Linked DNA regions of Homo sapiens: all the other regions are linked to region 1. Evidence: fine-mapped expression QTL. A gene starts in region 1. Each other region holds a variant in brackets. All regions are shown on one strand. Distances are between the middles of the regions.

Region 1 (9,942 bases):
TGGTTCTCCCGGCACAGTGTTTGAGCTCTGAGAACGGACACATTGCCTCCTCAAGTGGGTCCCTGACCCCCGTGTAGCCTAACTGGGAGATACTTCCCAGTAGGGGCCCACTGACACCTCATACAGGCAGGTGCCCCTCTGGGACAAAGCTTCCAGAAGAAGGATCAGGCAGCAATATTTACTATTCTGCAATAGTTGCTGTTCTGCAGCCTCCACTGGTGATACCCAGGCAAACAGGGTCTGGAGTGGACCTTCAGCAAACTCCAACAGACCTGCAGCTGAGGGACCTGACTCTTATAAGGAAAATTAACAAACAGAAAGGAATAGCATCAACATCAACAAAAAGGACATCTACGCCAAAACCCCATCTTTAGGCCACCAGCATCAAAGACCAAAGGCAGATAAAACCACAAAGATGGGGAGAAACCAGAGCAGAAAAGCTGAAAATTCTAAAAACCAGAGCACCTCTTCTCCTCCAAAGGATCGCAGCTCCTCGCCAGCAAGGGAACAAAGCTGGACAGAGAATGACTCTGACGAGCTGACAGAAGTAGGCTTCAGAAAGTCGGTAATAACCAACTTCTCCGAACTAGAGGAAGATGTTTGAATCCATGGTAAGGAAGCTAAAAACCTTGAAAAAAGATGAGACGAATGGCTAACTAGAATCAACAGTGTAGAGAAGACCTTAGATGACCTGATGGAGCTGAAAACCATGGCACCAGAACTACGTGACGCATGCACAAGCTTCAGTAGCCGATTCGATCTAGTGGAAGAAAGGGTATCAGTGATTGAAGATCAAATTAATTAGCCGAGTGTGGTGATGGGCGGCTATAATCCCAGCTACTCAGGAGGCTGAGGCAGGAAAATTGCTTGAGCCCAGTAGTTTGAGGCTGCAGTGAGCTGTGATCGAGCTACTGCACTCCAGCCTGGGTGACAGAGCCAGACCTTGTCTCAAAAAAAAAGTCCTGGCTGGGTGTGGTGGCTCATGCCTGTAATCCCAGCACTTTGGGAGGCTGAGGCAGGCAGATCACCTGAGGTCAGGAGTTTCAGGCCAGACTGGCCAATATGGTGAAACCCCGTCTCCACTAGAAATACAAAAATTAGCTGGGCACGGTGGTGGGAGCCTGTAGTCCCAGCTACTCGGGAGGCTGAGGCAGGAGAATTGCTTGAACCTGGGAGACGGAGGTTGCAGTGAGCTGAGATCACACCACTGCAATCCAGCCTGGGTGACCAGAGTGAGACTCCATCTCAAAAAAAAAAAAAAAAAAAAAAAAGGCCTAAAAGCCCCCAAATGATTGTCCACGTTCAGCGAGCACAGCTGTGAGCCATGGATCAGTATCCTTCAGAATTTCAGAGTTTTAAGAAACGCAGTTTCCATTCCTACTGGTTGCTATGGGATTATTATGAAGACGAGCAGGCCAGTGCTTGTCTGTTTCAAACGAGGGGCACTGAGCAACCCTCCCCGGACTCTGGTGGCTCGACGAGGCTGCTGTGGCAACAGGAGCTGGCCTGGGTGGCCCTGACTCTCCACTTCCTCTGTGGTCAGGGCTGACCCTCCTTAACCCTATTTTCCAAATAAGGAGTGGAGACACAGAGTGCTGCTCGCCCTGGGAGGCAGGAGCTGTGTGTGGGCCAGAGTGGAACTTGTCACTGGGTCTCACCTGTCTCCAAGGCCCCAGAAGCCCTGGAGAGCAGAGTGGGCCACGCAGGTTTCCTCACTCACGCAGCAGGTGCCCAGGGTACTACGAAGCCAGGCCGCGCTGGACCGTGGGTCAGTGAAAGGCCAGGGCAGGGCAGCCCTGGGGAGTGCAGGTAGACCCGTCCTTGCCCGGCTCAGCTCCCCCTGGACAGGTGGGGGCTCTTGCCAGCTGCTCTCACCCCTGAGTCCCAGCTTCCCCTTCTGGTCCCGACTCTGGGGGCAATGGTTCTCTCCCGGGTCAGTGTGACCAGTTGGAGAGTGGCTTCTGGCCATGAGGGGTGCAATAAGCTAGTTTTGGGGACAACCCTTTTCTGAAACTGCACTTGCTTAGACGAAAGGGGGGCCCAGGCCCCCCACTGCCCAGCCACAGAGGACTGGATAGGGGGAGACTGGGCTGGAGGCAGCCGGTCCCTGGAGGGCCATGCTCCAAAATCTGAACTTGAGACATGCACACTCGTCCTCAAGTGGTGCTGGGCCCAGAGCTGTGGGTCATCAAGCCATCCCATGTCATGCCAGAGGCCGAATGACCTGTTGCAGGTTCAGACGCCAGCGCCCTGGCAGAAACAACCGGTCTGCAGTGCAGGAAGAGGTGTGGACAGGGCTGCGGAGGAAGCCCCGGACTCCAAGGAGAGAAGACAGCCTGTGAGGACCCCCTTGCACCCTGGGCCACGTCAGGGCACCTCGGGGCTCCACTGTGAGCTTCTGTGGCTCTCACCTGCCAGCATCCCTGCCCTGTCCTGGCAGCTGCACCATGGGCCCTTCAGGGAACCCCCTCTCTGCTGGGTCCAGGCAGATGAGATGATCAGGGGCAGTCTCCCTTCTGGGGTAGGCCCGAGGCTCCGAGGCCTGGGCTGGACAGGTCAGCATGTGCCCCTCCCCCAGTGTGCTTGGCGCAGGGCTGAGACCCACATCACGCTAACATGACACGGGCAGAGCCAACCTCCCACTGGGTCTGCTGACTGCAGGGGTGACTTGGAGTCACCTAGGACCATCACAGGCTGAGTGAGGATGTGGCCAGTTCAGAGGCAGCAGAGCCACGAAAGGGGAAACTCGCCAGGCGGCCCTGGTCTGTCGACTCAGGAGGGCCAGGGAATCCCCACTGTTGCTTGTCACTTTGACTTCATCTTCTGCTGTCTGCATCAGAAAGTCCTTACAAGTACACCTACCGGCCAGGACACAGCTCCTCTGGGGTTCTTTAGGCGTCAGCTGCCAAACGACCCCACAAGCCACACAGTGGAGGCCACAGAACAGGTGCCCAGGTGGGCGGGGCTTCCTGTCACCCTCCCCCACATGTGCCCCGGTGGCCACACCCCACCCCTCCACCCTGCACGGCCTGAACCCTTGCTGTCCTATGGAAACGTAGGGTGAGTCCACATGCAATTCCCTATTTACCGGGAGCCACATTAGAAAAGCAGAAGTAGGTGAAATACAGACTAACTTTATATTTTATTTAACCCAACATAACCAAAATATTATTTCGACAAGTCTTCAACATAAAAAATTATTCATGAGCTGCCCCGCCTCACCCCTCTGTCCTCTGAGAAAGTCAGGAAAAGCAGAAACTTAACAGGGAGGCTTCACCTGCAGAGCCCAGCTCATCCAGCGAAGCTATGCTGGCCCAGAAGGAGTTACACAATGAAAAGAAGAAATTCTGAAACAAAGTATCTACACTGGCCCAGAGGAACTTCAAAAGTGAAAGGATGAAATTCTGAAGCAAAGTATCTTTAGGAGGGAGATGCCACTCAGTGCAGAGAAAGGCCCGGCTACTGCTGTCAGGACACGGACCCCTGGGCGCTGGAGAGCGTGCTCTGGAAAGCAGTCACTGCACACAAATAAGACATATGAGATGGAAAAGCAGCTGCCCAGGACTGTCGGCTGTCACCCCTGGGTGGGGAAATTATGGGTGGTGTCTGTTATCTTTTCAAGTATATCTTTATGTTAAAAAACCATTAATTTAATAAAATTGTTAAGTGAGATATTTTACATTATTTTTCTTTCACCAAGTCTTCTAAATCTGTGTATTTTACACTACCAGCACCTTCCAATTCCGACAGCCACGACTGCCCAGCCCTTGGGTGTGGCCCGTGGCCCCCACTGGTCAGCACAGGTGGGTCTGAAGGCACCTGTCAGGGTCTCTGCTGGTCGGAGCCAGCACACAGGGGCTGAGCGACACCGACGGCCCAAAACTGTCTGGTACTCGGTGTCGTCCCAGTCCTCACACACAACGTGAGCACGGCGGGACAGGTGTAACCCCCCAGGTGTGGCAGCTGAGGTTCAAGAATGGAAGTGACCCCCAAGCTTGGAGACAGTAGGGTTTCAACCCAGGTGTGTCTGGGGTCCTGCACGGTGACCCATGCCCCAGGCAGGCTCATTCCTGAGTCTCCAGGTGGCTCCCACAAGGAGTTAGGGAAGGAGGCCTCCAGGCTGGCTGTGACCCCTGACCCCGCACTTGCCCACCAGGAGACATTCCAGCCTTTCAGTTCTTCAGACCTTAGGGACACCTGACCTTCGCTCAGCATTCTCCAGAGGACAGAGACAGCCGTCAGGTAAGACTGGAGCCCAGCGGGGGGACCCGGCGGCCCGAGGTGGCGGGAGTGATTCCTAGGGCGACGCAGCTCTCAGGCAGGGCGGCAGGAGCAGCCTCTTCCTCCCTTTGGGGAGGCCACGCTGCGCGCCCACCTTTCCCAAGAGTAGAGGGCGGGAAAGGTCAGACGGGGGAGGCAGGGCCCGGTAGCACGCCGGCCACCCACCTGCCAGGGAGGACGCTGTCCCGGTCATGCAGCACAGTGGCAGCGCGTGTGGTGATCGGTGACCGCCGAGACCCCACGCCTGGACCCCGCGGCCACTCCCCGAGGGGCCTCCCCCTCCCCGCACGGGGATACCCCCCGTCCCCTCCCCCTCCTCCTCCCCGCGCGGGGCCTCCCCCCTTCCCCAAGGGGCCTCCCCTCACCTCTCCCCCCACCCCGCCCGCCCTTCCCCCACCTCGCTCCTCCCTCCATCCGCCCCTCCCCTCCCCGCCCCACCCCGGCCCTGCCCCGTCCCACCGCCCGCACTCACGTCGTCCATGAGCAGGAGCAGGATGTTGGGGGGCTGCGGGGCGCCCGAGGCCCCCATCCCCGCGGCGCTGAGCACCAGCAACAGCTGCCACCACCTCGTCGCCGCGACAACCGCCGCCATGGCAACCACGGGAGCCGCGGAGCCCCGGCCAGCGAGCCGACCTAGCGAGCGTCCGCCGGCCCTTCCGGCTGGGCTGCGGGGCGGGGCCTGGACGGCCACGTGACTCGCGGGGCGGGGCCAGAGTCCGCGGAGGGACGGGAGGCGGGGCCTGGACTGCCTCGTGACCAGTGGGGCGGGGCCTGAGCCAGCTGTGTGCGGATGGGGCGGGGCTTTGGAGGCCGCGTGACCAGCGGCGGGTCACGTGACGCGGTGCCTGGCGCCGAGCCTCCCAAGATGGCGGTGTGCATCGCGGTGATTGCCAAGGAGGTGCGTACGCGCGGCGTGGGGCGTCCGGGCTCGCACCATCCTCGGCTCTCCGCTTTCTTTCTACTTCTTCCCTGGGCTTAGAAGGCACCTTAGGAAATGGGACCTGGAGGAGGCCTTCGCCGAGCTCCAGCGGTCAGGGGCTTCGCGGTGGACGAGCCGCCAGGCAGACCCTGACTGAGACCCCAGTTCCGCGCTCGCCCGTCCCGCTGCTGAACGCACCCCTCGGCGCAGCAGGTCTCCTCCCCGCCAGGACCCACCAGAAACCTAGGTGGTCCCGGGCACTACCTCCGTCCTCCGTCCTCAGCAGGTTCTGCCCGTTCTCCCGTCCAGCGCTGGTTCCCCGCGGACGGCGGCCCCGGCCCTCCTGCCAGTCTCCCCGGAGCCGAGTTAAAAACAAATCGGATCCTGTCACGCCTCTGCCTGAGACCTCTGCAGTGGCTTCTCGTTGCCTTAGGATGCTGTCTGAATAACCTGCTCTGGGATCCTTTCCCCCCATAACCCTTGGCACTCTCCGCTCCAACCAAACAATTCTGCAGCTCCCTGGACATGCTCTGCCCTCTCACCTGTGGGCCTTTGCACGCGGAACACCTCTCCCCAGCTCCCATCCTCTTTACTGGCCCACATACATTTCAACTGGAAAGCATTTTCTGAAGGCTAAGACTGAGCTGGGTGGCTGCCCACACGCTCCTGCTGCACGGAGCCTTCATTTCCTAGCCAGGGTCTCCCGAGACCAGACTCGAGACCGCTCCCTGCTGGGCGGTGGCTGCTGCTAAGCTGCTCATGGGCTTCCCTCTTGGCCAAGATGATCATTTGCTTGTTTGTGGGTTTATTGACTAGGTATCACTCCCCACGAGGGTAGCGAGGACTCTTGTTCACTGTATTTGTGCAGGACCCAGTGCTGAACACACACAGGGTAAATGGTGGTGTGTGAAAGACCGAGAAAGAAGCTGTTAATTCTGGGCTTCCAATGGTCAGAAATGCAGAGATGAAGGGAATTTGAGCTGAGTCTTGAAGGGTTTAGTAAAAGGGTCACTGTCAAGGTGAAGAAAAGCCAGTATTGAGGGTGCTGTATTTGGGTGAGCCATGCAGAGTTAGAGGTGGGCTGAGGCAGAGTGGCCTCCAGGAGAAGGTGAGAGGCGTGCCCAGGTGCCAGGCTTGATCGGCAGGCTGTGCTCAGGCCCATTTTTCTGATTCATTTTTTCTTTTCCGCCCACCCTACTGCTGCTGCTTTGCAAACAACACATAAATCTCCTTAGGTTAGCTGGGATCCCCTGAAGGCAGTGCCCACTGCGGCATAGAGAATGAAGCGGTGGGCCTTAGAGCATGGGAATGCGTTCCCCGGGTGGCTGCAGGTCACGGCTCTGCAGCATAGTTCAGAGCTGGTGTGCGCTGGGTGGAGTCTTGTCCTTTCAGTCGCCGTCATCCTTTCTTGCAGAATTACCCCCTCTACATTCGCAGCACCCCTACGGAGAACGAGCTGAAGTTCCACTACATGGTGCACACATCTCTGGACGTGGTGGATGAGAAGATCTCCGCAATGGGGAAGGCCCTGGTCGACCAGAGGGAGCTGTACCTGGGCCTGCTCTACCCCACGGAGGACTACAAGGTGTATCTTTCAGGGCAGGGTGTGTGTCAGGGAGGACCTACAGTTGCAAGATGTACTTTAGGATCAGATAACTTGAAACCTTTTAGAAGAAAAAGAGGTGAGAGTTTTTAGCCAGCCAGGGAATTAGGGTAGCTTGAGGTGAATGAAGGCCTGTAACTCTTCTCTTTCATTGGAAGAGCCATTTGGGAAAAGCAAGGCTAGAATTCCCCGTAGAATGTTTTGGTTTGCACGTGTCCGTTGTCTGGTTTGCAGAGGAAGTGGGACACTTCTGCTTTGTACCTGCAAGGATTTCTTTCTGTGCTTTTCAGGGGGAGCCACCACCTTTGAGCAGGGGATAATAGTTTCATTTATTTCATTAGGCCTTGCCTCTTATGTCACTAGACACTCGTCTAGTCCCTTGGGACAAATCACTTGAGGCCATGGAATTCAAAGACCTTCCCAAAAGTCATCATGTAGCCTGTCCATGGTGACATTTGCTAGTAGCCACTATTTTACAAAATAATGTGGCCTCTAGAGAGGGGATCCGCCTTGTTCACGAAGCCTCTGGTTTTGCAGTTAACTTTCCGGGCCAGGCATTGATTCATGAAGAGGGTGAGGTGTTCCAGACAGACAGACTCGGAGTCTAGGTGGTTCGGCTCCTGGAGTGTGAACTGGGTAAGGCTTGGCTGCCTGCTCTTCGCTTCTCCTGCAAACACCAGACGTCGCCCTAGCAAAGTATTTAGGCTTGTACCCAGCACGGCCACTGCAGGACCAGCCCAGCATGGGCATTTCCTGTGATTCAAGGTTGCCACATTTCTCCAAAGTGAGGGCCCACAGAGGGCCCTCCACCGGCAGTCCCTGTGTTACGAGTGCCTTCCCTAACCAGCTGTGCAGATACGGCTACGTCACCAACTCCAAGGTGAAGTTTGTCATGGTGGTAGATTCCTCCAACACAGCCCTTCGAGACAACGAAATTCGCAGCGTAAGTCAGGGAGTTAGAGGGCCACGCCCGAGTGGGTGTTTTGTTTTTCCTTTTTGACTTTGTTTTGAAATGCTGAGAAACTAAAAATCTGGCAGTGGCTGTGTGTATGTGGCAAGGTCATGGTTTGCTGGGTCTTTTTCAGATGTTCCGGAAGCTACACAACTCCTACACAGACGTGATGTGCAACCCCTTCTACAACCCGGGGGACCGCATCCAGTCCAGGTGGGCCCTACTTTCTGTGTCTTGCCACCTTCTTTCTGTAGGACATGCCTTGCCATTTTGGTTGCCAAAATGCAACCATTTGGAAAATAAGGGAGGAAAGATCTTTTTAAGCTATGAGCACCATCCCCCTAGGGCAGAGGTTTTAAAGCCACAAAGCCCCGTTTCTCCACACCAACTCTTACACAGATCTCCAGCGCATAAAGTGGATAGAGTGTGTGTGGTGTGGGGAGTAGAGCTTGCCCATTTGGCTTCCCAGGTGTGCCCAGTGGGTACCTGGGGCACCTGCAGGACTCAGGGCCAAGCACATGGGCAGTGGCTTTCAGGGATCACACGTCCTTTTGTAGCTACCTGATCTTTTATGTTGAATTTGGAACAGTCAGGAACCTGGTTTGCAGGTGTCTTCCGAATAGTCCACAAAGTAAACAGATTTAACTTTTGAACATCATGAGGGAAATGTGGGGTCCATGCCCACATTCCAGACTTGCTTTCAGTGAGTCCCCAGTTCCAAGACATAATTCCCTGTGGTTGGCAGGGAAGAGGACGCTGCAGTGATCCAAGGCAGGCCCCTCCCTCCACCAGGACACTGTCTTGGGGCCATCCTGGTCCCAGATGGGAGCAGGCAGGCGAATGTCCACAGTCTTGCCTCCTGGGCTGCACAGGGCCATCCTTGCCACACCACCGCTCTGCCTGCCCATGCTGCTCCCTCCTCCACCCCTTCCTGGGGCCTTGGGAGGCTGCACAGGGAACTTGGAGGCAGCAGATGGGTTCTCAGTGCCCGGTGGGGTGGGACTCCTGTCCTGGCCTCTCAGCGGAGTTCACATTTCTGGACCCTGGAGAAGGTCCCGAGCATCCTGTGGATGGAGCCATGCTGCCCGGCCCGTCTCTGAGCAGAGGGGTGGAGGGCCTGGCTCTCCTCTGAGTGGGTCTGTTTCTCTTAGCAGGGCCTTTGATAACATGGTGACGTCGATGATGATACAGGTGTGCTGAGTGAGCTGTGCTGCCAGCCATCGCAGAGGAGCCCGCGCACGACTGTGGTGGGGCCGTCGGTCTGTTCTGGTTGCCTCTTCCTGAATGGGACGCCTGGGGCTTTCAGGGCAGGCAGCTGTGCATGTTCTCTCAACTAAAGGTCTTGTGAGAGGAGATTTGGCTTTTTCCTTCCGTGTCAGCCAAGGATTTAATTAAGAAGAATTCAACTAAGGACTTTTCTGGGGTGTGGGCAGAGGTTTGGGATCAGATGGCGCAGGTAGCCTGTCCTCAGTTGTCCCAAAGGGGCAGAGGCAGGGGTGCCTGGAGCCAAGAGTTCCTGAGCCTGCAGGACCTGTGACCATGTGGGTCACCCACTGGCTGAACAGGTGGGCTGGTCTGGAGGGGGTGGCCTCCTGAGCCCAGAACCAGCCTAGGATCTAGGGGCACAAGGGGAGCCGGCGTGGCTTCCCACAGGGGAGGGCCCTCCTCTTTCTGGACTTGGCCTCCATTCTTTGCATCTGGCTCAATGTCTGGATTCCGCCCGGCCTTAAAAGGAGCCCTTGTGAAACCTGGGAAGCCTCGTGGCCCCGCGGCGTTGGCTCAGCTGCAGCCCTGGTCCTAAACCTTGGAGCGCAGACTTGAGGCACCCCCTCCTGCCTGTTGGTGCTGAGGGGGTTGGGTGCTGTGTCACTTGATGACGTGGCTGACTACCACCCAGGGCAGCGGCCGAGCCCATAGTGGCGTCAGTGCCGCCGGCGTCCTTGGGGTCCAGCGGTCAAGGCTCAGCCCGCTGAGGGGACCCCCCCGGAGTTGGTTCCAGCACTGGTCCAGGACTGGAGAGTTTCTCAAGGACCTTGAGGACCCCAGAAGCCCTTGCAGCAGGAAAGGCTGTAAGGGGGGGTCAGCCTAGGGCAGGACCTAGGGAGGGGAACTTTCTTGATACATATTTGCCTTTTCATCCCATCTAGCAAGCACAGTGTTAATTTTAGAAATTATAGAAGAAAAAAT
Region 2 (8,605 bases), 35 kb before region 1:
GCCAGGCAGAGGCCCGGGTGGCCGGCTGTGGACCTGCGGCTGCCCTGGTGCAGCGTTGTTCTGGTCCCCGAGTCGCTTGGCTCCTGCCTCCCGAATCCCGGACGCCGCCGCGTGTGCTCTGAGGCACGAGGGCCTCACCACTGACGGAGGCGGGGAAGCACGCCTGCCTCTGCCCTGTGCTGGCCACGGTTCATCCTGGGCCCCGGGTGGGTGGCTGCAGCCCCGGCAAAGAGACGGCCGCCCACACACCAGCCACTTACCATGACCGCCCAGTTGCACACGTTGAGCTGGGGCTGCGCGGGGACCAAGGCCTCCTGGTGCTGCTGGACGACCGAGGTGATCCTGCTGAGGGCCTCCTGGTACTCGGCGCTGGCAAAGCTGGGGACAGAGAGCTCTGGTCACACGGCTGGGGCTGACAGCGAAGGACGGAGAGGGGCTGGCCTGGACAGGCTGAGGCTGCAGAGCTCTAACGGGCTGAGAACCACAGTGAGCAGTCACTGGGACCATGTGCTCAAGCCTGCAGCGGCCCCGGGCCTCGCTAGGACAGGCAGCAGGCACCCGAGCCATCCTCTGCCCTCAGACTCACGGGCAAGAGAGGAAATGAAGGCTCAGCAGGCCAAGCCCTGGCAGAGAGGCTGTGAGTAGAGCCGTCCCATCCTGTCCCTGCCTGTGACCAGGACCCGGGATATGTGGGCTGGGGCCTGTGGGTCTCCCCAGCACTCACTACTACGTAAACATTTACAAATATGACACACCCTTCTTTCATTACAAAAGCAACGTCATCCCATTGCCAAAAAGCAGGAAATGGAGGGGAACGGCATCTGCAGTTCTAAAATTCCAATGCAAGCTGCGGAGTGTTTGGATTCCTTTCATCTTCACGAAGATACGATTACACGGCTCGACGAGGTGCCACGGTTCGCGATGTCAGGGCCGCAGTTTGCGATGCTGTGAATCTTGGGTCCACGGCGCCGTCATGCTGTGCTCTGAGGACATCTGCACAGATGATGCCTTTTCACCATTTTCAATCACTTCTAATATCGACAACATCCACATAAAAAGACACCTGCCATCGCTGCCATAGCGGAGATGCAGGGAGGAACTTCTGCGAGTGTGGCTGAAGCTGGAGTTTCTCAATGCCCAGGCTGGGAGCTGCGTTGCTGCTGGTGGGGACGTGGACCGGAGCAGCCACTCTGGAAGGTGGTGTGGCAGCTCCTTACAAAGCTAGAGACGGGGTTACCAGGTGAGTCAGCTCCCCTCCTGATGGCAGCACCTGTCCAGGCCCAGTACCTTCTGGGAGGTGAGCCCGGACCCACTGAAGCCCAGTCTTCTGCCTTGGACGCTCAGCAGTCTGTGAGAACTGGCTTTTTGCTCCAGAACCTTCCCTAAAAATGAGGCTTCACACGGAAGCTGCATGCAACAGGGACGGGGATGCGCCCCCCTCCCCACCCCCGGCCACCTGCCCCAGCCTCTTTCTGCTCGATCCACCCACTCCCTGCTTAGGCCTCAGGCCTGGGGTTGCATCAGAGGGCGACCTTCAGGAGAGCTGGGGTCCTTCAGGGCTCCCCGCTTGGTGCCCGCGGAGATGCCTGTCCTGGTCCCAGCCTGGGCTTCACACAGCGCCCCTGAGCACAGGGTCCATTTTTAATCCAGGAGGGTCTCAGGTGCATTTGTGTTTCTGCAGGATTCTGTGGCCAAATACTGCTGGTTGAGAACTGGCGTGAACTGCACGTGCACTTTCTGACGGTGAGCGTCCCCGAAGGCCGTGGCCTGGCTTGTTGCTTTAATCTTGTTTATTTCATTTATTTTTTAGAGACAGGATCTTGCTCTGTTACCCAGGCTGGAGTGGTGAGACAGCAGCTCACTGCAGCCTTGACCTTCCAGGCTCAAGCGATCTTCCTGCCTCAGTCTCTTGAGTAGCTGGGACCATAGATCACTGTGCCTGGCTAATTTTAATTATTATTTTTTGAGAGAGAGTCTCGCGCTGTCACCTAGGCTGGAGTGCAATGGCATGATCTCAGCTCACTGCAACCTCCGCCTCCCTGGTTCAAGCGATTCTCCTGCCTCAGCCTCCTGAGTAGCTGGGAGTACAGGCGCCCGCCACCACGCCTGGCTAATTTTTATATTTTTAGTAGAGACGGGGTTTCACCATGTTGGTCAGGCTGGTCTCGAACTCCTGACCTCATGATCTGCCTGCCTCGGCCTCCCAAAGTGCTGGGATTACAGGTGTGAGCCACTGTGCCCGGCCTTAATTTTTTATTTTCTGTACCAGTAAGGTCTTGCTGTGTTGACCAGGCTGGTCTCAAACTCCTGGGGCTCAAGAGATCCTCCTACCTCGGCCTCCCAAAGTGCTGGGATCACAGGTGTGAGTGACCATGCCTGGCCCCGTCGTCTTTTTTTCTTTAGACGGAGTCTTGCTCTGTCACCCAGGCTGGAGTGCAGTGGTGCGATCTCAGCTCACTGCAACCTCCGCCTCCTGGGTTCAAGCAATTCTCCCGCCTCACCTTCTCGAGTAGCTGGGATTACAGGCACCGACCAACACATCCAGCTAATTTTTTGTATTTTGGTAGAGATGGGATTTCACCATGTAGGCCAGGCTGGTCTCAAACTCCTGACCTCAGGTGATCCACTCACCTCAGCCTCCCAAAGTGCTGGGATTACAGGCATGAACCATGGCGACCGGCCACCCGTCTTTAATTTAGAGAGGCTCCTGGCAAAGTGACATGTGTGTCTGTGTCTGAGAAGCAGCCCACGGTGAATCAGGCTGTGTCATGGGTGTGTGACCTCAGGGACAGTGGTTCTCAAAGGCATGGCCGACAGCTGGGCCTCCTTGTGACCCCCTCTGGGAAGCTCTGCCTGCTGCCTGGGTTTGCTTTGAAATAACCCTGCCTTCTCCAGCTGTGAGGGCGGGGCTGGGTGGCTGTGGTGGGTGGGACTGTGTCTCTGCTCTGGCCTGGCTGGAGGGGCTCCAGCAAACGCAACAGGCGGGGAGCAGTGGCCCTGAGGACCCCCCTGTGGATGCCAATCACGCCCAGTGGACGCGAGGGGGCACCGCCATCCAGGCTTTAACCTCGGGTGGTCCCTGGAGCGACCAGCCTGTGGGGGGTGTGGCGGGCACCGGTGTGGCCAGCAGCTTGTTCTGTGTAACTGGGGCCTGCAATCTGCTCCCCGTGGTCCCCCTGGGACGGCGCTTCCAGCTGGGGGGGCTGTTGGCTCCTCAGTGACTTCTGCGGGCACAGGGGGCTCCCAGACAGCCCCTCCAGCTCCACAAGGCCCCAAGCTCCAGGCCCCCCATGGTTTCACGGGTCTCACCCCCATGGGTGATCACGAGTCCCCCGGGGGCGTCTGTCTCTGTATCTCGGCACCCCCACAACATATGACCATGAACTGGGGCTTAAAACAATGAAACTGCAGATGCCCCTCACTTTTCCAGAGGCCAGAGGCTGAAACCAAGGGTCTCAGGGCTGTGCACCCCTGGAGGAACTGGGGCTCCTTCCTGCCTCTTCCAGCTCCAGTGGCCCCAGGTGAGCCGAGGCTGGTGGCGCTCTGTCCAGTCCCCGTCTCGTCCCGTGGCCTTCACCATGTCTGTGTCTCCTCCCTCTGGACTCAGGGCATTTGGCCTTGGACCCAGCGCCACCCGTGCCTTAATCACAAGGCACAGGCCCTACTTCCCTTCAGGCCAAGCTGGGAGGTGTGGGTGGACCTGGGCCTGGGGACACTGCTGTCCACTCCAGGCTCCATGCTGCCTTCCCGCAGTCACCATCCTGGGCTTCTGAGCTGGACGCTCGGTGGAGGAGAGGTGCTGCCGAGGAAGTGCCCAAGGGATCCCTGAGGGGCTGCAGCCCAGGAGCCTCACCGCAGGCTCAGCCCCGTGGGAAGGCGGCTGCCCCGTCCAGAGGGTGCAGGAGCCTCAGGGCACCTTGGCGGTGGTGCTGCCACCCTCGGTCCTGTACTGCTCTCTGCTGCCTCCCACCGGCCCTACTCAAACCCAGGCCCATCGGGGAGCATAGAAAGCCTGGGCAGGGAGCAACCGCTGTGCTCAGGCCTGGTTCTGCCTCTGCACGCCACTCCCCTGATGCTCCTGGGTCTTCCCAGGACCAACTCGATAGGGCAGGAATGCTGGAGACCACTAGGCATGCACGTGCCCCAGGACCCCCAGGCCAGGAGCAGGAATTGGGG[A/G]CCTGCTCATCCTGCTGGGGTGAGGGGGGGAAGCCTCCAGGTAGCCCTAGCCCAGGGAGATGGGTTCGGACAAAAAAAAAGGAAGCCAGGGCGGGGTCTCCAGCCAAGTGTTGGGGCCTCTGTGTCGCCCCTAAGGAGCTGCCAGCAGGTGAGTCTGGTACTGGCGACCATGACCCTCAAGACTCCTGAGGGTAAGGGGAGGGCTTCCCTGAAAACTGGCAGGTGATGGCGCAGACTCCGGCATCCTCGGTGGGGTGAGGACAAGGCCCAGAGAGCAGAGGGTGGAGCTGGGGCTGGTGGCTTTCTGCCATTCCTCCTGCTAGCTGACCTGTGTCCTTGTACCTCCTACTTGCCCCAGGGCCTGGACCCCTCCCCTCTGGCCTCAGCCATCCCCAAATGCAGCTCAGAGTAGGGGATACATCACTGGGGGCCAGGTGGATGGTGGCCCAGAAGGGGCAGAAGTGGGGAGACCACCAGGGTGGGCAGCAGCAGGCACCCTGGGAGGAGGGCAGGCCACCAAGCACGTGTGGGTATGAATAGCAACAGCAGATGCAGGCAAGGGGAGGCGGCGGGCAGGGTGCAGAGGGCTCTGTCCCTGTGGAGCCTGCATTTGGGGGAGTCCGGCTGGCACTGCCTCAGCAGCCAGGAGGCCCTGCACCGACTCACCTGAGGGGGAACCTCTCCCCTGGGTCCCGTCCCAGGTGGAAGATCAGGGGCAGCTTCGTGTGGTCTTCCAGATTGTGAGTTGTGACCCCTGAAACGTTCTGCCCAGGGCAGAAATCAATGCCCTGCAATGAGAAGAGGGAAGGTGTGTCCTGGAGCCCCTGACCTGCGGCCGTGAGGGGCCTCGTCTGCCCGTGTCCTGGAGCCCCTGACTGCGGCCGTGAGGGGCCTTGTCTGCCTGTGTCCTGGAGCCCCTAACTGGGGGCCGTGGGGGGGTCTCGTCTGCCTGTGCCTAGCAGCGTCCCTGGTACTCAGCATGGTGCAGGGCGCTGGCTAAACGCTGAAGGACTAGCGGGCCCATAAGCATCCTGTGGAGGAGGTGAAGCCACCCGCTCTGGGCCCGAGATGCGTAGCTGGCATGCCTCACGTACCCTGTTTTCATGTACCCCTCTTCTTTGCGAGGCAGGTGAGTGTATTTAAAACACCTTAGCCAGCCTCAGATCTGGACTGCCACTAATTTCATGGAGGAAAGCCCCTTTTAACAGCCTACTCTCTGCTGGGGAAGGGAGGGGAGGGAAAGGGACGGGAAGGGAGGCCCTGCCCTGGGAGAAGGGAGAGCCACAACGCTCAGAATCCCTACAGAAACCCTAAGACAGGGAGGAGCAGGACCAACATGTGAAAGGCAAGAGAAAACACAGAAAACAAAAACAGACCCAGGGAGCTGACACAGATTCACACACTCAAGAAGGGCAAGGATTTTACAGTAACCACAATTCTCTTTCTGCTGCCCCTGGGCCTCCTGATTCGGGAAAGGCGAGGTATGCCTCTAACATTCCCAGAGCGGGTGCTGCAGGCCAAGGGGCTCGTCCGAGGACTGTGCCCAGGACGGCCCTCGCAGGCGGCAATGCCGGGGACCGATGCCCAGGACGGCCCTCGCAGGCGGCAATGCCGGGGACCGATGCCCAGGACGGCCCTCGCAGGCGGCAATGCCGGGGACCGATGCCCAGGACGGCCCTCGCAGGCGGCAATGCCGGGGACCGATGCCCAGGACGGCCCTCGCAGGCGGCAATGCCGGGGACCGATGCCCAGGACGGCCCTCGCAGGCGGCAATGCCGGGGACCGATGCCCAGGACGGCCCTCGCAGGCGGCAATGCCCGGGGAACGATGCCCAGGACGGCCCTCGCAGGCGGCAATGCCCGGGGACCGATGCCCAGGACGGCCCTCGCAGGCGGCAATGCCGGGGACCGATGCCCAGGACGGCCCTCACAGGCGGCAATGCCGGGGACCGATGCCCAGGATGGCCCTTGCAGGTGACAGTGCTGGGTAAAACCCGAAAGAAGAGCGGGTGCGGGGCCTGCACAGGGTGGGGAGGAGCCAAAACACTCCTGGGCATCATTGCCCTCCAGACACTGCCCCACGAGCAGCTTCCCTCCTCAGCCTGGGTGCTCAGCCCTCAGCCCCAGTTCTCACTTCCAGTCTTTAGACTCTCCATTACACTAAATGATTTTCTTCCCAATTAAGGCAGATTAGCAGGGGGTTCATATCTCAAGACTTTGATGCTGGGAGTGGGTGGGGCTGAGAGAGACCTCTCAGGAGGGGCTGGGGGATGCTGGAGCGTAGGGGTCAGCAGGGGCCAGAAAAGACCGTGGGGAGGGAGCAGGAGGCTTGAGGCGAGGGCTCGTGGGAGAAAGCCTGGCGCTGACAATGCTGGGGTAGCCTGGGGCGGCAGGAGCCCCAGGCCCTGTGCGTGTGGCGTTTCACCCTCCCACACTGGGGGTTGCTGTGGTGATGCCAATGCTGCGGCCCCCATGTAGCACCTGGGCCAAGCAGGCCACGTCTCTGTCGCCTCCAGCCTGGGGTGTGGGGGAGGCTCAGATGCCCTGGCAGGATGGAGAGGCCCATGGGGGCCACCTGACCAGGGTCTAGGCCACGCCTGTAGCTATGCCGCGGGGCTACTGTCATCACGCGGGGCAGGAAGAGGTCCCTCCCTCCTCTCCAGCCTGTCAGCTGCCATGCCCTAGGCCACGCTGAACGACTGGGGGCCACACAGAGAAGGCTGTGGAGGGGGTGGAGTTCCTGCCTGTCTCACCCTCCTGTGCCTCCCCCAGGACGGTGCTCAGGGGCCACGTCTGGATAGAGATGGGGGCAGCTCCGCCTGCGCCCACGTCCCGAGCCCTGTACCTGTCTGAAGTTCTCCCAGGAGTTGGTCCAGGTCCAGAAGTGAGCCTTGTGCTGCCCGAGGGTGGCCGCCATCAGCGTGTCGCCACGGTAATAGAAGATAGGCCTGTGGGATGGGAGGGGAGGACCATGTAATGACAGGAAGGACACGCTGGGGCCACCTGGAGGCTCTGGGCTGCGTCTGTCATCAGTGGCTCATGCCTCCACGTGAGGTCTTGGTTGATACTTTACAAAGATGATTGAAAAGTAAAAAGGCCCGCAAGGTGGCTGGGGCTGGGGTGCCTGGGCGGCCGGGGCTGGAGCTCCTGGGTGGCCAGGGCTGGGGTGACTGGGTATCTGGGGCGCCTGGGTGTCTGGGGCTGGGGTGTCTGGGCGGCCGGGGCTGGGGTGACTGGGTGTTTGGGCGGCCGGGGCTGGGGTGACTGGGTGTCTAGGGTGCCTGGGTGTCTGGGGCGCCTGGGTGTCTGGGGCTGGGGTGTCTGGGTGGCCAGGGCTGGGGTGCCTGGGTGTTTGGGCAGCCGGGGCTGGGGTGCCTGGGTGGCCGGGGCGACTGGGTATCTGGGGTGCCTGGGTGTCTGGGGCTGGGGTGTCTGGGCAACCGGGGCTGGGGTGGCTGGGTGTCTGGGTGGCCGGGGCTGGGGTGACTGGGTGTCTGGGGTGCCTGGGTGTCTAGGGCTGGAGTGCCTGGGCGGCCAGGGCTGGGGTACCTGGGTGTCTGGGCGGCCGGGGCTGGGGTGCCTGGATGTCTGGGGCTGGGGTTTCTGGGCAGCCGGGGCTGGGGTGCCTGGGTGTCCGGGACTGGGATTCCTGGGCAGCTGGGGCTGGGGTGCCTGGGTGTCTGGGGTGCCTGGGCGGCCGGGGCTAGGGTGCCTGGGCGTCCCCTCATTGCTGGTCCTTGGCAAGGCTGGGCCAGACCCTGGGGAGGGTGGGCAGACAAGAGGATAAGCAGGCGGCACGGGGTCTCCTGACCATGTTGGGCCTGCGAGTCAGGAACGGGGAGTGGGGGACGCAGCTGGGCACCGTCTCTCCCCACAGTGACCAACCACTTGTGCCAGGTCTCGAGAGGGGACAAGTGAGCAAAACTCCCTCTACCCGGCCCCAGATAGCCGGAGGCGGCAGCTGCCTTGGGCCGTCCCCACCTTGCTTCCCGTTGAGCCTTTGGAATCCTCATCCCTTCAGGACCACCCAGGAAACGTGGTTTGAGTGGAATGGTGGCTGCTCTCAGGGGGTAGGAAATGGACTTTGGACACTAAGGATTTGGACAGAAGGTAAGAGCTGGGCCATGGACTTGGCAGAGCAGCGACTTGGATGGAAGGAAGAAGGAAGCTACAGGAAGCCATGAGGCACCAAAAACCAGGCTGGGCAGGGAACAGGGGTGGGGCAGACAGGGGCAGCGTGTGCCCGGGCTACAGACAGGGAACAGGGGTGGGGCGGGCAGGGGCGGCGTGTGCCCAGGTACAGGCAGGCAACAGGGGTGGGGCAGGCAGGGGTGGCATGTGCCCGGGCTGCAGGCAGGGAACAGGGGTGGGGCGGACAGGGGCGGCGTGTGTCTGGGTACAGGCAGGGAACAGGGGTGCGGCGGACAGGG
Region 3 (10,712 bases), 220 kb after region 1:
CAGTTCCCCAGTGCCAGGCACTGCAGGAGGCTCTGAGAGGGGTCGGTGGCCTCTGTCTCAACTCAGCTCGCTCAGCGGCCCTGGGAAGCCAGGGGAGGTTCTGGAGCCAAGCTCCAGCCAGACCCATCCCATCAGCATTGCTGCAGCTCCCCAAGGGCTCTGCTGCGTGCTTGGAAGTGAAAATTGCTGATGGAGGGGGTGGGTCCGACGAGAAGAGAGGAAGGGACAGAGTCCAGCCACAGGTGGTTCTGGGCATTCTCCAAGCTCCTCCAGACCTCTCTGAGGCCTTGGCAGAATCCTGCATTACCCAAGCCTGTTTCTCCATCTGTAAAATAGGGATAGGAATACTTCCACCCCCCAGGTCCTTGAGAAGACCAAATGAGGTGATACTCTGCGCATGTTCTTGGTGCAAGGAAGTGACTACCCACATGCACTGTCGTATCAGGGACACAGGTTAGCCACGTTCATCCTCAGAGGTACCTGGGAGTGGAAGCATTGTTACCTCCACTCACAGAGGAGACCGAGGTACTGAAAGGTTTAGTAGCCCACCTGAAGCCATGCAGCTAGTAGAGAAGGAGCTGGAAATTCAACCTGGATGGTGATGATGGTGATGGTGGTGGTGATGATAGTGGTGATGATGATGGTGGTGATGGTGACGATGATGATGATGGTGATGATGACGATGATGATGGTGATGATGATGGTGGTGATGATGATGGTGGTGATGGTGATGATGATGGTGGTGATGGTGATGATGATGGTGATGATGATGATGGTGGTGATGATGGTGGTGATGATGGTGGTGATGATGGTGATGATGATGGTGGTGATGGTGATGATGATGGTGATGATGATGATGGTGGTGATGATGGTGATGATGATGGTGGTGATGATGATGGTGGTGATGATGGTGATGATGATGGTGGTGATGATGATGGTGGTGATGGTGGTGATGATGATGGTGGTGATGGTGATGATGATGGTGGTGATGGTGATGATGATGGTGGTGATGACGGTGATGATGATGGTGGAGATGGTAATGATGATGGTGATGATGATGATGGTGGTGATGGTGATGATGGTGGTGATGATGATGGTGGTGATGATGGTGACGATGATGATGATGGTGATGGTGATGATGATGATGGTGGTGATGGTGGTGATGATGATGGTGGTGATGATGGTGATGATGATGGTGGTGATGGTGATGATGGTGATGATGATGGTGGTGATGTTGATGGCAGTGATGATGATGATGATAGCAATGATTATAGTGGTGATGGTGATGATGGTGGTGGTGGTGATGATGGCAATGATGATGGTGATGATGGTGGTGGTGGTGATGATGGTGATGATGATGGTGGTGATGGTGATGATGATGATTGTGGTGGCATTGTTCTTGACAGTTTATACATATTAACTCATTTAATTCTCACAATAAGCCAATGACTGTGTCCATTTTGCGAGTGAGGACAGTGAAGCAGAGAGAAAGTAACTTGCTTAAGACCACACAGTCAGTAAGTGGCAGAGCAGGGACTCGGGGCTACACATTCCAGTTGGAGCCCATGTCCAGAGCCCACGTCCACAGCTGCTGCGCTGTCTTGCTCCATGAAGCCATGCTGCTTCACACAGTATCTCACGAAATTGGGGGAAGAGGCTGAGTTCAGAGCACAGGGTGCACCCCCACTGGAAGGAGTTGGAATTATGCAGGAGGTGCAGTGGACTGAATGTTTCTGTCCTCCCCAAATTCATATATTGAAATCCTTATCCCTAGAGTGATGGTATCAGGTGGGGCCTTTGGTGGGTGATTAAGTCATGAGGGTGGACCCTCGTGAATGAGACCGCTCCCCTCATGAAAGGGAGCCGAGAGAGCTACCAGCCCTCTTTTCGTCATGCGAGGACACAGCGAGAATCTGGCCATCTGCAGCTTGGAAACGGGCCCTCACCAGAACCTAACCATGCCAGCACCTTGATCTTGGACTCCAGCCTCCAGAACTGTGAGACAGAGAGGTCTGCTGTGTATAAGCCCTCAAGCCTGTGGTCCTTTCTTATAGCAGCCCGAGCTGTCTGAGGCAGGAGGCGAGATTTAAGCTGTACCTTGAAGGGCATCTATAAGTGGGCCAGGGTGGGAGGGTCTGCCTGGGAATGGAGCAAGGTCTCAGGGGGAGACTCAACAACTGGAATCTGGCTCTGGGGAGCCTGAACTCCAGCTGCACCAGTGGGGCCTGCCTGCAGCCCACATCTTCCAGCCACACATCCCACCCACCAGCTAGGCTCTCTCCCCATGCGGGCAGTTTGGGGGCGTCTTTGCCCGTACCCCTCCCTGTCTACCATGAGCTCGTCCCCCAGGCTGAGCAGAGCCACATGTGGCCCCTGATGGGCCAGAGTCTACAGGACTCAAGCAGGGACAGCCGGGCACCCTAGGGGTGCTGCTGGCTGGTGGGAGGGGGATCCCTCCAAGGTGTGCCAGGGTCCCTCGGTGCAGCAAGGGGCATGGCCCTTACCCCCACCCCCCTTGCCCCCCCCACCGCCGTCCTTGCCCTCCACCAGCACCCTCACCACCCCCGCTGCCGCCCTCACCCCGCACCACCACCCTTGCCCTCACCAGCGCCCTCACCACTGACTGCTGCCACCCTCAGCCCCGACTGTCGCCCTCACCCCTGACCACCGCCCTCACCACCCCCACCGCCCTCACCCCCACCGCCACCGCCCTCAACCCTCCACAGCTACTCTCACCCCTCTGCCGCCGCCCTCGCCCCCCCACCGCCGCCCTCACCCCCCCGCCGCCGCCCTCAACCCTCCGCCGCCGCCCTCACCCCCCCGCCGCCGTCCTCAACCCCCCAACGCCACCCTCGCCCCCGCCAGCACCCTTGCCTCGCCTGCTCCCTCTGCCTCAAAGCAGAACATTCTGGACTTGGGGTGAAAAGCCTGGATTTGAGCTATGCTGCCCACCACTCTGCCTGGGTTTGCTTTTCTGGATAACATCTGCCTGCCTGCTGTGGCTCCACTGGTTGCCCCCCTGGCGCCACATCTCTTCTCCTCTGCTGCTGGAGTCCAGGTCTGCCCTCCTGGGGCACCCGCCCAGCTCACAGGCAAACCTACCCGGTCTCGGGGGCTGTGACTGAGGGGTGTGGCAGAGGCTTCGGGTGTTCACTGGGAGCTTCCGCAGGGGAACCGGCCTGGTAGGAACGGCCGCTTTGGGGAAGGCAGAACCATCGGGAACCAGCCTCAGGGTGCAGGCTTCCAGGACAGTGCTCACTCTGGGCAGAGCCACCACCACATTGCTTACTCGTCCCCACAGATGGAACAGGAGCGAGGTCGCCTGTATCCTCCGGGAAATGCTCCTGGAGGTCAGGGCAGCCGGGTGAGCACTGGGTCCGGCTGCTCTCCCCAGCTTCTCTTCTCCAGTCAGCCAACCCAGCCTCCGCGAGAGACAGAGGAAAGACAGACACGGCGTTGGCTGCGCGGGGGCCTGCATCCCTCCCGACCTTCTCATTTGATCCTCCTGCCCTATGCGGTTGGTGCCAACGTTCATCCCATTTTACAGATGAGTAAACTCAGCTTCAGTGAGGCCGGGGCCTTCCTGGAGATCACAGAGCAAGTGAGCCCAGGCCTCAACACCCCTCTCCCCTCCGCACCTCTGCCGCCCCCTCCCGGTTCCTTTCCCGACTCTGGACCCCACGGGTGTCCTGGGCTCTGCTGCGGTGTTCCTGGCTCCGCTCTCTTCCTACCTCCTGGGCCGGCAGGGGAAAGTGCTCCCAGCTGGGGCCACCACACCCTGACCTGCCCATTCCACTTTCCTCAGCTGTAAAGCAGGGAAGTCAGGGCCCCTCTTTATGGGCTTGTGGAGTTGAATGGGGTCATGTTGTGTAAATCCCTAAGCCCAGTGCTGTCTCGGAAAAGACCTCAGTTCCGGGTTTATTGTTCTCTCTCCCACTCAGGCACCATCAGTCTCAACTGTCGCTGGCCGGAGCTGGCTCTACGCGTTTCTTTCCTCGTACTCTGTGGTCTACAAGGACAGGAGGTGCTGGGGGCTGGCTGGCTCCTCGGGGACAGTGGGGAGCCGTGTAGGAAGGGACACCGAGGCACCAAGGGCCCAGCAGGACCTGGGGAGGGGGTACAAGGATGGCTGTGCTGCAGCAGACTGGCTGCCTCCACGCCCACTCTGGAATGGCCGGGGCCAGACTGCGCAGCTGTCGTTTTGATTGAATCCAGATGCCCCTGGTACTCGAGACAAATGTGCTCTGGGGAGCGTTTAAATAAAAACACAAGGATCAGAGGTGTTCCCAGGGGCCAGTTTCATGGGGAGCCAGGGAGAGGGAGGAGTGGGCCCTGTCCCTACACCGATAGCAGGTGGCCCAGTCCGTGACCGGACACAGCTCCCCTCCACCCACCAACCTCCTGGCCACCTGCTGGGGCCCCCCCGAGTCTGCAAATCTCCCTGAATCTGTTTCCCCACCATGTCACCGGGCACCCAGGAGAGCTGCACCTGCAAGTGACTGGGTGCTTGGCCCAGGGGTGGGTGCTGGTGGGTGAGAGTGGTCCCTATCACTATCACAGATGATAAGTGACGTCTGTCACACCGGGAGCCTGGGCCGGGCAACCTGGCACCCATTTCCTCTCTTGGAAGTGGAGGCCCTGAGGCTTCTGAGCGCGCAGGGCTGCTGGGAGGACGAGTAAGAAAAGCGGGTGAAGCACAGAGCCCAAGGCTCCGTGTGGCCCCCCCAGTCAGCTGAAGTCGTGACCCTCACCGCAGCCTCCGCCCCGCGCCAAGCCTGACTGTGGTGGCTTCCGATGGGTGTCCTCCTGGGCTTCCCAAAGCAGGAGGTGAGGTGCAGGACAACGCTGGCGCAGGCTGGCTCAGAGGCACAGCAGAGCCGGGTCCTGCACGGCCAGGCGCATCGGGAGTGGCCTTCCCTGGCTGTCAAGGTGTCAGGCAGCTGCCTTTGTGCAGGGCACTTACCTGGAGTGCGGTGGCCCCGAGGAATCTCGTTTTTTTTTTTTT[TTTTTTTTG/T]TTTTTTATACAGAGTCTCACTCTGTCACCCCGGCTTCAGTGCAGTGGAAGGATCTCAGCTCACTGCAGCCTCTGCCTCCTGGGCTTAAGCAATCCTCCCACCTTAGCCTTCTGAGTAGCTGGGACTGCAGGTGGGCACCACCACGCCCAGCTAATTTTTAAATTTTTTTATAGGGACGGGGTCTCGACCTGGACCAACCCAGGCTGGTCTCAAACTCCTGGGCTCAAGCAATCCACTTGCCTAAGCCTCCCGAAGTGCTGGGATAACAGACGTGAGCCGCCACACCCGGCCTTCACATGGTTTGAGCCGCCGCACCCGGCCTCTCACATGGTTCTTCTCACGGGCGCTCCCCACATGTGCGGACCCCTCCTTCGTGGCCTCCAGCTTCTATTTAGAGAGGGTGTGACACGCTGAGATCTTTCACACGGGTGGTGACGGGACTGAATCGAGTTGCAGGACGCCAGCGGGTATGAGAGCTGCTGCTGTGGAGAACGGCAGCACCATTTCCACACCCACGTGTGGCACTTGGTCACGGCCCATGCGGGAAACAACTACACCCACCTATTTCCCTCCCAGAAAACCTACGTTTTTCTTCCCAAGACAGACACTGTGTGCTCACAACACCCTGTTGCTGCCTTTCCTGAGTAGTATGTGTGCAGGAGTCCTCACAGCAGCCGTGTCGCAGGGAGCAGGCGCCACGGCCTTGGAAGCCAGCACAGTCAGCGAAATTCCGTAGGGAGCTGGGACTGACACGGCCCAGTCATGTCATGGATGAGCCATGTCATGAACGACTCATGCATGCACCAGTCACGTGAGGACCTGTCACGTGTGGACCTGTCATACATGCACCAGTTGAGTGTGGACCTGTCATGTGTGAACTTGTCACGTGAAGACCTGTCACATGTGAACCTGTCACGAGGACCTGTCACGTGTGGACCTGTCACGTGTGGACCTGTCACGTGAGGACCTGTCACGTGTGGACCTGTCACGTGAGGATCTGTCGTGTGGTCCTGTCGTCTGTGGGCCTGTCACGTGAGGACCTGTCATGTGTGGACTGTCACGTGTGGACCTGTCACGTGTGGACTGTCACGTGTGGACCTCTCATACATGCACCAGTCACGTGTAGACCTGTCACGTGTGAACCTGTCGTGTGGTCCTGTCGTCTGTGGGCCTGTCACGTGTGGATCTGTCACGTGTGGACCTGTCATACATGCACCAGTCACGTGTGGACCTGTCGTGTGGTCCTGTCATCTGTGGGCCTGTCACGTGTGGACCTGTCACGTGAGGACCTGTCACGTGTGGATCTGTCACGTATGGACTCTCACGTGTGGACCTGTCATACATGCACCAGTCACGTGTGGACCTGTCACGTGTGAACCTGTCGTGTGGTCCTGTCGTCTGTGGGCCTGTCACGTGTGGATCTGTCACGTGTGGACTGTCACGTGTGGACCTGTCATACATGCACCAGTCACGTGTGGACCTGTCGTGTGGTCCTGTCGTCTGTGGGCCTGTCACGTGTGGACCTGTCACGTGAGGACCTGTCATGTGTGGACCAGTCATGTGAGGACCTGTCACGTGTGGACTGTCACGTGTGGACCTGTCATACATGCACCAGTCACGTGTAGACCTGTCACGTGTGAACCTGTCGTGTGGTCCTGTCGTCTGTGGGCCTGTCACGTGTGGATCTGTCACGTGTGGACTGTCACGTGTGGACCTGTCATACATGCACCAGTCACGTGTGGACCTGTCGTGTGGTCCTGTCATCTGTAGGCCTGTCACATGTGGACCTGTCACGTGTGGACTGTCACGTGTGGACCTGTCATGCATGCACCAGTCACGTGTGGACCTGTCACGTGTGAACCTGTTGTGTGGTCCTGTCGTCTGTGGGCCTGTCACGTGTGGACGTGTCACGTGTGGACCCGGCTGAAGGCAGGATGCCTCAGCCAATCCTATGCCTGGGCAGGGCGGGGGATGCCTCTGCATTTTCTGAGCCCCATGGCCCTGCAGTGCTGCTGGGTGGCTGTCACAGACCCAGGCCAGCCCCTCCTCCCAGGCAGGCAGCTGGAGCTGCAGGGGAGGGTGTCACGGCCAGCCCAAGAGGCCTCATCCCTGCTACCGGGTACCTGCCGTAGCTATGTCCAGCCCAGGTCACTGAGTGTGTAAACACACCTCACGTCCGCGTCGAGAAGGCGTCACCAGTGCCTGCTGAACAAAGAAGGTCTGGCCCAGTGTGGCTGCAGCCAGGAGGCCAAGGAGACCAGTGAGAGCACCGCCCTCGCCACTGACGCTCTTGCTGGGCTCATTGTTGTGCTGGGCCCAGTGGAGCAAAAGACAGGCCTCCAGCCGGGGCACCTCCCAACAACTCTGCACCCTTGATTGAAATGCAATGTCTGCGGCTGACGGCCACGTGACTGCAACCCACCCTCCCGGCTGCCGATTAATTTTACCTTTTGTGCTGCCAGCTGCAGTGGGTTCATGGTGAGAGCTGAGTTGATGCATGCGAGTGCGAGGGTGTGTTAATGTGTGCACATGTGTGACTGTGTGAGGGTGTATATGTGTGTGTACATACATTGTGTGCATGCGTGTGAGTGTGTACACTGTGAGCACATCTGTGAATGTATGCGGGTGTGTCCCTATGAGCACGTGTGTGTGCACGTGTGACCGTGTGAGGGTGTATATGTGTGTGTGCATACATTGTGTATGTGAATGCATGTGAGTGTGTACACTGAGCACGTCTGTGAATGTATGTGGGTGTGTCCATATGAGCACGTGTGTGTGCACCTGTGACCGTGTGAGGGTGTATATGTGTGTGTGCATACATTGTGTATGTGCACGCATGTGAGTGTGTACACTGTGAGCACGTCTGTGAATGTATGTGGGTGTGTCCATATGAGCACGTGTGTGTGCACATGTGTGACTGTGTGAGGGTGTATATGTGTGTGCATACATTGTGTGCGTGCATGTGAGTGTGTATACTGTGAGCACGTCTGTGAATGTATGCGGGTGTGTCCATATGAGCACGTGTGTGCACGTGTGACCGTGTGAGGGTGTATACATGTGTGTGCATACATTGTGTATGTGCAGGCATGCGAGTGTGTACACTGAGCACGTCTGTGAATGTATGTGGGTGTGTCCATATGAGCACGTGTGTGTGCACATGTGTACATGTGACATGTGTCACTGTGAGCGGATGCATGAGTGCATGTGAGTGTCTGCATGTGTTAGTGTGTGTGGCTTTGTCCATTGTGAGCATGTGTACTCGTGTACATAGGTGTGTGAACACAGGCATACAAGCGTACGTGGTGTGCGTTCACTGTGCATGTGAATGTGTGTGTGTGTGTGGGCAGGTGGCTGTGCACGCACATGTCTGTCCACTGTCTGTGTGTGCTCATGCATATCTGCGTGTGGGCATGTGGTTGGTGTCATATGTGGCTGTGTGAGTGTGTGCACATGTGGAATATGGGTGTCTGGCTGTATCCGTGTGTGAGTGCACACGTCTGTGTGTGAGCATTTGATTGTGTGAGCACGTGCACACTCATACAAGCACAGATGTGAACCATTGCCCTGGGGCCTGCTTGTGCTACCTGTGAGCAGAGGAGACATCCTGAGGAGGCTCCACTCCCAGCCCAGCCCGTGGAGGGACACCCATGGCCTCAGGTCTCCAGGCTCCCGACGAGCTGTTAGCCAACTCAGTCCCCAAAGCAAAGCTCCAAGTTGGCAGTTGAGGATTGGAGCCCAGAGTGACTTGTCAGGGGTTTGGGGACCCAGGGAGGAAGGCCTAGGAAACCCGGGCGGGCCCACAGGGAGGCTGGCCTCCTGTCGGCCAAGGAACAGAAGAAGCAGAGGATGGAGCCCACAGGGGCTCCCACCTACTATTCCCAAGTCACTTGTCACCAATAATAACGTCCATGCTTGCAAATAAACTACGTTTAAAAGTAACAAAATTCAACATTGCCCTTGTGTGGCATCACTCGGCTTCCCTGGGGTTCTCCAGGAGGATAGAGGCCCCAGGACTCAGTGACGCTGAGATGGGCGCCCCCGGCGTGTCTGCACCCCCTGCAGGACGTCCTGGAGCCTCCGTCAGCCACACTCATGGAGTCGGGCCCCGGACCCGGGGCAAGGCAGCCAGAAATGACTCTGTAGGTGGCCCCCATGCAGCCAGCCCAGCTCCTGCCTCAAGGACACTTCGCAGGGCTGGGTCCAGGAGGTTGCTGGGCTCCAGTCCCAGGTCCCACCTTCATCACTGTGACCGCGGCACCTCTCGGACCCTCATTGGAAATTGAAAGAGGGCGCAGCCATTGGCAAGACCGCTGTGGGGGTGGGAGCTCTATAAGCCGCCCCTGGCGAACTCCATTGTCGGGGGGCCTCTATAAGCCGCCCCTGGCGAACTCCATTGTCGGGGGGCCTCTACGAGCCGCCCCTGGCGAACTCCATTGTCGGGGGGCCTCTACGAGCCGCCCCTGGCGAACTCCATTGTCGGGGGGCCTCTACCAGCCGCCCCTGGCGAACTCCATTGTCGGGGGGCCTCTACGAGCCGCCCCTGGCGAACTCCATTGTCGGGGGGCCTCTACGAGCCGCCCCTGGCGAACTCCATTGTCGGGGGGCCTCTACCAGCCGCCCCTGGCGAACTCCATTGTCGGGGGGCCTCTACCAGCCGCCCCTGGCGAACTCCATTGTCGGGGGGCCTCTACCAGCCGCCCCTGGCGAACTCCATTGTCGGGGGGCCTCTACCAGCCGCCCCTGGCGAACTCCATTGTCGGGGGGCCTCTACCAGCCGCCCCTGGCGAACTCCATTGTCGGGGGGCCTCTACGAGCCGCCCCTGGCGAACTCCATTACTGGGGGGCCTCTACGAGCCGCCCCGGTGAACTCCATTGTCGGGGGGCCTCTATAAGCCGCCCCGGTGAACTCCATTGTCGGAGGGCCTCTATAAGCCACCCCTGGCAAACTCCAGGGCTCACCTCAGGTCGGATCGAGCCCCCTCTGGGGTTTCACTGAAATCTCCAGCATTTTCAGAGACACCAGGAGCCCTGGATGAAAGGAAGACTGGCACCCTTGGTGGGAAGGACCCTCCCCCGATTTTGGAACAGAGGAGGCAGAGCTCCTCCTGAAGGCTGGCACCTGCCCCGGGGCTCTCCTGGTTACCCCGCAGCAGGATGAGCCCAGAGGGTGAGCGATGAGGCCAAGGTTGTCAGGAAGGGAGGGGCAGCTTGGTCAACGCTGCCAGGAAGCTCCGACAGTATCTCCAAGGACATGAAGGTCTGAAAAAGAAACAGGAAAATACAGACATCCCCGCTTAAGCAGGGTTTGTTTTTCTTTTTGTTTTTTTGAGACAGAGTCTTGCTCTGTTGTCCAGGCTGGAGTGCAATAGTGCAATCTCGGCCTCCCGGGTTCAAGTGATTTTCCTGCCTCAGCCTCCCGAGTAGCTGGGATCACAGGCATGCACCACCACGCCCGGCTAATTTTTTTTTTACTTTTAGTAGAGACAGGGTTTCTCCACGTTGGCCAGGCGGGTTTCAAACTCCTGACCTCAGGTGATCTGCCTGCCTCAGCCTCCCACAGTGCTGGGATGACAGGCGTGAGCCGGTGTGCCGGGCCCAGGGTTTCCCTTTTTCTGCAGTTTCAGTTATCCATGGTCAACAGAGCTCCAAAAATATTAAATGGAAAATTCTAAAACTAAACAATTCATAAGTTTTAAAT

What was found. PIP is the estimated chance that this variant, and not a neighbour inherited with it, causes the effect.
Region 2: its variant is the best candidate, but not a certain one, in a credible set for the expression of GALNS in monocytes (Fairfax 2014, PIP 0.58).
Region 3: its variant is the best candidate, but not a certain one, in a credible set for the expression of GALNS in monocytes after Pam3CSK4 (Quach 2016, PIP 0.78).

The regions. Positions count from the first base shown.
Region 1 is chr16:88,852,005-88,861,946 of GRCh38, forward strand. GALNS (galactosamine (N-acetyl)-6-sulfatase) reads right to left here and starts at 4,943. Exons shown (of 14, transcript NM_000512.5): 1 at 4,754-4,943. The coding sequence starts at 4,873. TRAPPC2L (trafficking protein particle complex subunit 2L) reads left to right here and starts at 5,123. Exons shown (of 5, transcript NM_001318525.2): 1 at 5,123-5,179; 2 at 6,615-6,787; 3 at 7,659-7,746; 4 at 7,889-7,968; 5 at 8,910-9,942. The coding sequence starts at 5,147. The coding sequence ends at 8,955. LOC107983950 (a long non-coding RNA gene) reads right to left here and starts at 4,576. Exons shown (of 2, transcript XR_933884.3): 1 at 4,447-4,576; 2 at 3,124-4,297. RefSeq lists silencers at 2,937-3,006, 4,676-5,075.
Region 2 is chr16:88,817,747-88,826,351 of GRCh38, forward strand. It overlaps GALNS (galactosamine (N-acetyl)-6-sulfatase), which reads right to left. Exons shown (of 14, transcript NM_000512.5): 11 at 7,021-7,123; 12 at 4,843-4,964; 13 at 261-378. Among named protein-coding and RNA genes, the nearest start is that of APRT, 10 kb to the left of the region's middle. RefSeq lists an enhancer at 39-1,238. The variant A/G (reference allele first, on the strand shown) is at 4,177.
Region 3 is chr16:89,068,173-89,078,884 of GRCh38, forward strand. It overlaps LOC105371412 (a long non-coding RNA gene), which reads left to right and starts at 2,867. Exons shown (of 3, transcript XR_933889.3): 1 at 2,867-3,601; 2 at 3,942-4,024; 3 at 5,188-7,805. The variant TTTTTTTTG/T (reference allele first, on the strand shown) is at 5,006.